Homo sapiens: one gene and its partner. The protein of the gene in region 1 purifies or fractionates together with the protein of each later gene. This does not show direct contact. Each region holds a gene or a part of one and is shown on either strand. Other genes may lie near its edges.

The links. The genes of interacting proteins can lie anywhere in the genome.
Region 2: the proteins of ALDH5A1 (region 1) and ADI1 fractionate together in Homo sapiens (co-fractionation; one large-scale study listed by BioGRID). This does not show direct contact.

Annotation. Positions count from the first base shown.
Region 1 is NC_000006.12:24,493,416-24,497,162, reverse strand, and holds the start of ALDH5A1 (succinate-semialdehyde dehydrogenase, mitochondrial isoform 2 precursor), read right to left. Parts: upstream 2,167-3,747; coding exon 1,813-2,166; intron 1-1,812. Other genes in the region: GPLD1 (phosphatidylinositol-glycan-specific phospholipase D), read left to right, coding at 2,153-2,196. UniProt on the Homo sapiens protein: Catalyzes one step in the degradation of the inhibitory neurotransmitter gamma-aminobutyric acid (GABA).
Region 2 is NC_000002.12:3,509,390-3,513,036, forward strand, and holds part of ADI1 (acireductone dioxygenase), read right to left. Parts: intron 1-3,647. UniProt on the Homo sapiens protein: Catalyzes 2 different reactions between oxygen and the acireductone 1,2-dihydroxy-3-keto-5-methylthiopentene (DHK-MTPene) depending upon the metal bound in the active site.

The sequences.
Region 1 (3,747 bases):
CTTCCGCGCTGTGGAAGCTTTCTTCTTTTGCTCTTCACAATAAATGTTGCTACCACTCATTCTTTGGGTCCATGCCATCTTTAAGAGCTGTAACACTCACTGCAAAGGTCCGCGGCTCCATTTTTGAAGTCAGCGAGGCCACAAACCTACCGGCAGGAACCAACTCCGGACACACTTACCTCCTTTGGTCTTTGTATCTCATGTCCTCAATGAGACCTACCCTGATGTTACGGGCTGAATGGTGCTCCTGGCAAAATTGACATGTCGAAGTCCTAACCCCCCAGTATCTCAGAATGTGAGTGCATTTGGAAATAGGGTCTTTAAAAAGGGAATTAAGTTATGATGAGGTCATTCTGGTGGGCCCCAATCCAATCTGACTCCTGTTTTTAAAAGAAGAAGAGATTAGGACACATATACACACAGAGGAAAGACCATGTGGAGACACACAGGGAAGATTCATTCATATAACCAACTGCTTACTTTACATCCTCACTTGGGCGTGAACAGACATCTCAGACTCCATGAGTCTAAAATTGAGGTCTGATGAGATACAAAGACAAAAGCTGAGCTCTCTGCAAGCCAATGAGAGGCCTTAGAAGAAACCAACTCTGACAACACCTCGATCTGGGATTTCTACCCTCCAGAGCGGTAAAATGAGAAATGTCTGTTGTTCAGGCCACCCAGTCTGTGGTACTTTGCTATGGCAGCCCTAGCAGAGGAATATGCCTGGTCACACTGTTGATGCTGCATCTTGCCCCTTCCCTCTGGCCCGGATCCTCTCCTGCTTCTACCTTTTTTCCATATTGCACTCAGCATCTCTCACATACTTATTTGCTTAGATATTATGTTTGTTGTTTAGAGTTCTGATCTCTCTTCTGCTCCCCTTCCACCCCATGTGAGCTCCATAAGGGCAGAATCCTTCTTTCGTTTAACTGAGGTATCCCAAGCACCTCCAACAGTGCAGGGCATACAGCAGGTGCTCAGTAAACAGCTGATGGATGAATGAGTGCTAAGACTCTCTTGTACTCGTAGGGATCGCTGGATGCATTCCTTCAGAGGGAGAGCTTTGAAGGACACGGTAAAAAATTTCACTGCGTTGACTCCAGGTTTAATAATATAATATTAGAAGGAAGAAACTACTTTCTTAGTTTTCTTCTTACTCTATTCTTCCCATTTAATGGCCCTCCACCCCTTACTCCCAATTCTCCAGTGTTCTCTATGCAATGGCCAATAGCAGCATTTATCCATTTAGGGTGAAAACCTGGAGAACGCTCCTGGATTTCTCTCTTCCCCTGCACAAAACCCAAATCTTTCTACAGTTCTCTCCGTTTCCGATCCCATGATTCTGGCCAGGGGCCCTCACTACCAGCCTTCTCAAGGGCCGCTGAAGCAGCCTCCTGCGTGGGCTCCCTGCAGCTGCGGAGATATTTCAGCTACTCTGAAGGGCCACACGTGCTCTCACTTCCCTGACACCCCTCCCCTTTCTCCCCGCCCCTCCACGGTTAGGCTTGTTGACCATAACAAGCAGCTCGCTTGTATTAGGCGCTCACGTTCTGCCTCCCCTACTGGGCAGTGCATAACTTGATGAGGCTTGAGGGCAGGGGTCGTGTCCCTAGTGCCCGGCTCAAAGTGGAAGCTCCAAACTTATTTGTCGGTCGTCTCCCTTGTTGCTCTGACTTTCCACTTTGTATACCCTGGGGAACTGAGCACAGGAGGGAGGCGACGCGGCTGGTGTCACTTTGGGGTAAAGCCCCCTCTGCTCCCCGCCGTGTCCCCGGCCAGCTCTGGCCCCCTGCATCCGGGCTCTCTCACCTTGGCGGAGACCTCCCTCCAGCGGCAGAAAGCCTCGTAGGCAGCGCGCACGGCGGCGCGGGCCTCTCGCACCCCGCAGTCGGCTACCATGCCCAGAGCGGCGCCGCTGGCCGGGTCTTGCACGGGGAAGGTGGCGGCGGCCGGGAGCCAGCGGCCGCCCACGAAGCTGTCGGTGCGCAGCAGCGCCGCAGAGAGGCCCGCCAGGCGCCCAGCGTAGCAGCGGAGCTGGGCCGGGCCGGGCGCAGGCCCGGAGGCAGGGACCAGGCCGCCGGCGCGGGGGCGGAGGCGGCAGCCTGGAAACGTCGACCCGAGGCGCCGGGCCCCACAGCTCCGCAGCCAAATGCAGGTCGCCATGGCCCGGGCAACGACGGCGACAGGAAACAGGCAAGCGGGCGCGCGCGCACGGGAACGCAGGGGTCGCGGGGAAGCAAGAGGAGCGAGGAGGCGCCGGGGACGCGCGGGGAAAGCGTGGGAGCTGGCGGAAGGTTGCAGAGCCACAGAGCAGCGCCCTCTCTCCGCGTCTTTCTCGCTGCACCGCCGCGCCGCCCTCTGCACCTTGCCCTAAGCGCCGCGCGGCTTCTCTCCTGGCGCGACCTTCTCCCGGGGGAGGGTTGGGTTCGGGGATGGAGAAGGCTCGCCAGTAGATGCACCTGCGGACTGCTGTCACCTTTTCACTTTTCGGGTGCTCATTTGTCACTAACTGCTCCTGAGCCCCCAATCGCTGCTAGAGACCCACTCTCTCCCCTTAGCATCCCCCAAATTCGGCATCCCCGGAATTTGTGCGCGGTCCATAGATGCGCTGGTGCCTGCCCTAAATGCCAAGGCCGTGATCACGCTTCTTCAGTTGTAGCTCCTGAGCACGTAGTATTGATTGGGAGCGATCGTTCTCTGAGGGGTCGAAGTGTGACCCCGCGTTCTGCTGCCTGGCTGCTTTTTTGGGTGTGTGTCTAGGCATTCTCCTAGGGTTGCTCCCGATAAATAACAGCGCTTTGGAAATAAACAGACTAGGATCCAAACTCAAGTCTGTTGCCGACAAGCTGTGTGACCGACAGGTTAACCTTAGTCCAGTCACTTATAAAATAGAACCATATCTACCCCATTTTGTTGTGAGATAACGTAAAATGCTCATTACAGTTGCCACATTAAATTCAATATAGCGTTCAAAGTCATACTAGCTACCCTAGTCAAGCCACTAGTAAGATTAAAGTTGGGTCACCAACTAGTAAATGGAAGCATTTGTCAAAATTGAATCAACCAAGGTATAAGGATTGAGCATACTATCCAACCAAGGTATTTGAGCACCTTTAAACAGCATTCTTCATCCGTTAAAAAATTAGACTTGGGCTTAAGACTCTGAAAGCAGCAGGGAAGCTTAAAACCTAATGAGGATAAAAATAAAAATAGCAGGCGTATGCTGGGAATTTGTGGGTGCAAATGAAGCCCAGCCCTATGCATTGATTTTAGGTTACATATCTCCCTTTCTCAACTCCTACAGCGTTGAGAGTATCTTGCTAGCTTTCACCTTTTTCTAGGACGTTGAATTTTTTTCTAGGACATTTGCAAAATGCCGAGGCAGTAACTTTAAATTTTGACTTTGTCTTTTGCTGAGTCAGATCCATTGAGTTTTGAGCCAGTCACATATGGCAGAAGTGATAACAGTAGAGTTTAATCAATTTCACACTATTTTGCTCTGTATTTTATTGCAGGAACTGGGGAGAACCAGGGAGTCCTAATAGGGATGTGGGCCAGTAGGTATCACAGGTGGGGCTGGGGAGCTGGCGTGTTTACATCTCCTGCCTGCGGAGGGAGTTTTTGTTTTTGTTTTGTTTTGTTTTTGGTGGTGGTTTTTGTTTTTTGTTTGTTTTGTTCTTGTGAGACCGACAGACTCATTCTGTCACCCAGGGTGGAGTGCAGTGGTGCGATTTCAGCTCCCTG
Region 2 (3,647 bases), on another chromosome or scaffold:
CATGAAACATTCACCAAGACAGATAACATTCTGGACCATAAAACAAGTCTCAATATATTTACGAAGACTCAAATTATACAAAGTTTATTCTCTGACTACACCAGAAATAAATTAGAAACAAATAAAAAAATCTAGAAAAATCCTCAAATAATTGGAAACTAACAAATATCTAAAAACAAAACAAAACATCCACACAAGTCAAAGATAAAATTAAAAAGTAAATTAATTAGAATGTATTTAAAATGAAATGAAAATAAAAAGTATATCGAAATTATCAAAAGTTGTGTGAAGCCACTAAAGCAGTACTCTGGGGAAAATTTACAGCACTAAACCCCCGTACTAAGGAAAGAAAAACAACACTCTGCGAGGCCGAGGAGGGAGGATCACTTGAGGCCAGGAGTTCAAGACCAACCTGAACAACCTGGTGAGATTCCAACGCTACAAAAAATTAAAAAAAAAAAAAAATTAGGCAGGCCGGGTGCGGTGGCTCATGCCTGTAATCCCAGCACTTTGGGAGGCCAAGACAGGAGGATCACCTGAGATCAGGAGTTTGAGACCAGCCTGACCAACATGGAGAAACCCCGTATCTACTAAAAATACAAAATTAGCTGGACATGGTGGCGTATGTCTGTAATCCCAGCTACTCAGGAGGCTGAGGCAGGAGAATTGCTTGAACCCAGGAGGCGGAGGTTGCGGAGAGCCGAGATTGTGCCATTGCACTCCAGCCTGGGCAACAAGAGCGGAACTCTGTCTCAAAAAAAAAAAAAAAAAAAAAATTAGCCTGGCATGGTGGCACATACCTGTAGTCCTAGCTACTCAGGAGGCCGAAGTGGGAGGACTGCTTAAGCCTAGGCATTCAAGACTGCAGTGAGCTATGATTGCACCACTGCACTTTAGCCTGGGTGGCAGAGCAAAGTAATAATAATAATAATGTCTGTTTCTAGAATAATAATAATAATAATGACAAAGAAAGAACTCAAATCAGTGACTTCAGCTTCCAACTAGGGAACTTAGAAAAAAGAGCAAATTAAAACATGTAAAAGAAGACAAATTATAAATGTCAGAGCAGAATCCAATGAAACAAAAAATAGAAAAAGAGAAAAATCAATGAAACCTAAAGTTTTTTGAGAGGATCAATACAATTGATAAGCCTCTATCCAGACTCAGGAAAGGGAGAAAAAACACAAATTATCAGTATCAGGAATGAGAGAAGACAGCACTACATACTCTACAGATATTAAAAGGATAATAGAAAATATTCCAAATATTTTTATGGCAATAAATTTGACAACTCAAATGAAATGGACAAATGCCTTGAGAGAAACAAACAAATAATGCTCATTCAAGAAAAAATGGGTTACCTGAATAGCCCTACATCTAGTAAAGAAGTTGAACTCACAGTTAAAAACCTTCCCACAAAGAAAACTACAAGGCCAGATGGCTTCACTGGTGAATCTCCAAACATAAGGAAAGAATAATACTATCTACACATACTCTTCCAAGAAACTGAACAGGAGGGACTACTTTCCAGCTCATTTTATGAGATCAGAATTACTCTGATATGAAATCCAAACTAAAACATTGATATAGTTTGGCAATATGTCCCCAACCAAATCTCATGTTAAATCGTAATTCTCAGTGTTGGAGATGGGGCCTGGTGGGAGGTGACTGGATCACGGGAATGGATTTCTCATGAATGGTTCAGCGCCACTCCCTTGGTGCTGTCTTCACCACAGTGAGTGACTTCTCACAAGATCTGGCTATTTAAAACTGGGTGGCACTTCATTCTCTCTCTTGTTCCCATTCCTGTTATGTGAGATGCCTGCTCCCACTTTGCCTTCTGCCATGACTGTAAGCTTCCTGAGGCCTCTCTAGAAGCAGATGGTGGTGCCAGGAAGCAGATGTTTCCTGTACAGCCTGAAGAACTGAGATGCAATTAAACCTTTTTCTTATAATTTACTTCTAAATTACACAGTAACTTCTTGTGAGATCTGGTCATTTAAAACAGTGTGGCACCTTGCTCTCTCTTTCATTCCCACTCCTGTTATGTAAGATGCCTGCTCCCTCTTTGCCTTCTGCCATGACTGTAAGCTTCCTGAGGCCTCCCCAGAAGCAGATGGTGGTGACAGGAAGCACATGCTTCCTGTAGAGCCTGCAGATTATAAATTTTCTTATAAATTACACAGTCTCAGATATTTCTTTATAGCAATGCAAGAACAACCTAATACAGAAAAAATGGTACCAAGGAGTGGGGCATTGCTATAAAGATACCTGAAAATATGGAAGCAGCTTTGGAATTGAGTAACACGCAGAGACTAGAAGTGTGTAGAAGGCTCAGAAGGAGACAGGAAGATGAGGGAAAGTTTGGAACTTTTTAGAGACTGGTTAACTCATTGTGACCAAAATGCTGATAGTCATACAGACAATAAAGTCCAGGCTAATGAGGTCTCAGATGGAAATGAGGAATTTATCGGGAACTGGAACAAACATCACACGTTTGCCTCAGCAAAGAACTTGGCTGCATTCTGTACATGCCCTAGGGATCTGCGGAAGTTTGAACTTGAGAGTGATGCCTAGGGTATATGGTAGAAGAAATTTCTAAGCACCAAAGTGTTCAAGATGTTTCCTGCCTGTTTCTAACAGCCTATGCGCAGATGCAAGGGCAAAGGAATGACCTGAAGTTGGAACTTATATTTAAAAGGGAAGCAGAGCAGAAAAGTTTGGAAAATTTGCAACTTGGCCACATGGCAAAGAAAGAAAAAGTTTTTGAGAGAGGATTTCAAGCAGGCTTGTAGAGCAACGACTTCCTAGAGAAATTCACATAACTACAAAGAAGCCAAGGGCTGACAGCCAAGACAATGGGGAAAAAACCTCAAAGGCATTTCAGAGACCTCTTCCTAGAGAAATCAGCATAACTTCAAACACAGCCAAGGCAATGGGGAAAAAACCTCAGAGGCATTTCAGAGACCTTTCAGCAGCCCCTCCCATCACAGAGCCAGAGGTCTAAAAGGAGAGAATGGTTTCATGGGTCAGGCCCAGAGCCCCTCTGCCCTACAGAGCCTCAGGACACTGCTCCCTGCATCCCAGCTGCTCGGGTTCTGCTAGGGTTCTGGCCTCAGATCAAAAGGGCCCAGGTACAGCTTGGGCCACAGCTCCAGAGGGTGCAAGCCATGAGCCTTTGTGGCTTCCATGTGTTATTAAGCCTGTGAGTGCACAGAGTGCAAGGGTTGAGGCTTGGGATTCTCCACCTAGATTTCAGAGAATGTATGGAAAAGCCTGGGTGTCTAGGCAGAAGTCTGTTGCAGGGTAGAAACCCTCATGGAGAACCTCTACTATGACAGTGCAGAGGGGAAATGTGGGATTGAAGCCCCCTCACAAAGTCCCCACTGGGGCACTGCCTAGGAGCTGTGGGAAGAGAACCACCATCCTGCAGACCCAAGAATGATAGATTCACTGGCAGCTTGCACCCTGCACCTGCAAAAGCTATAGGCACTCAAAGCCATCCCATGAGAGCAACCTCAGGAGCCCCTGCAAAGCCACAGGGACAGAGCTGCCTAAGGCCTTGGGAGCCCATTCCTTGCACCAGTGTGCCCTAGATGTGGGACATGGAGTCAAAGGGTATTATTTTGGAGCTTTAAGATTTAGTG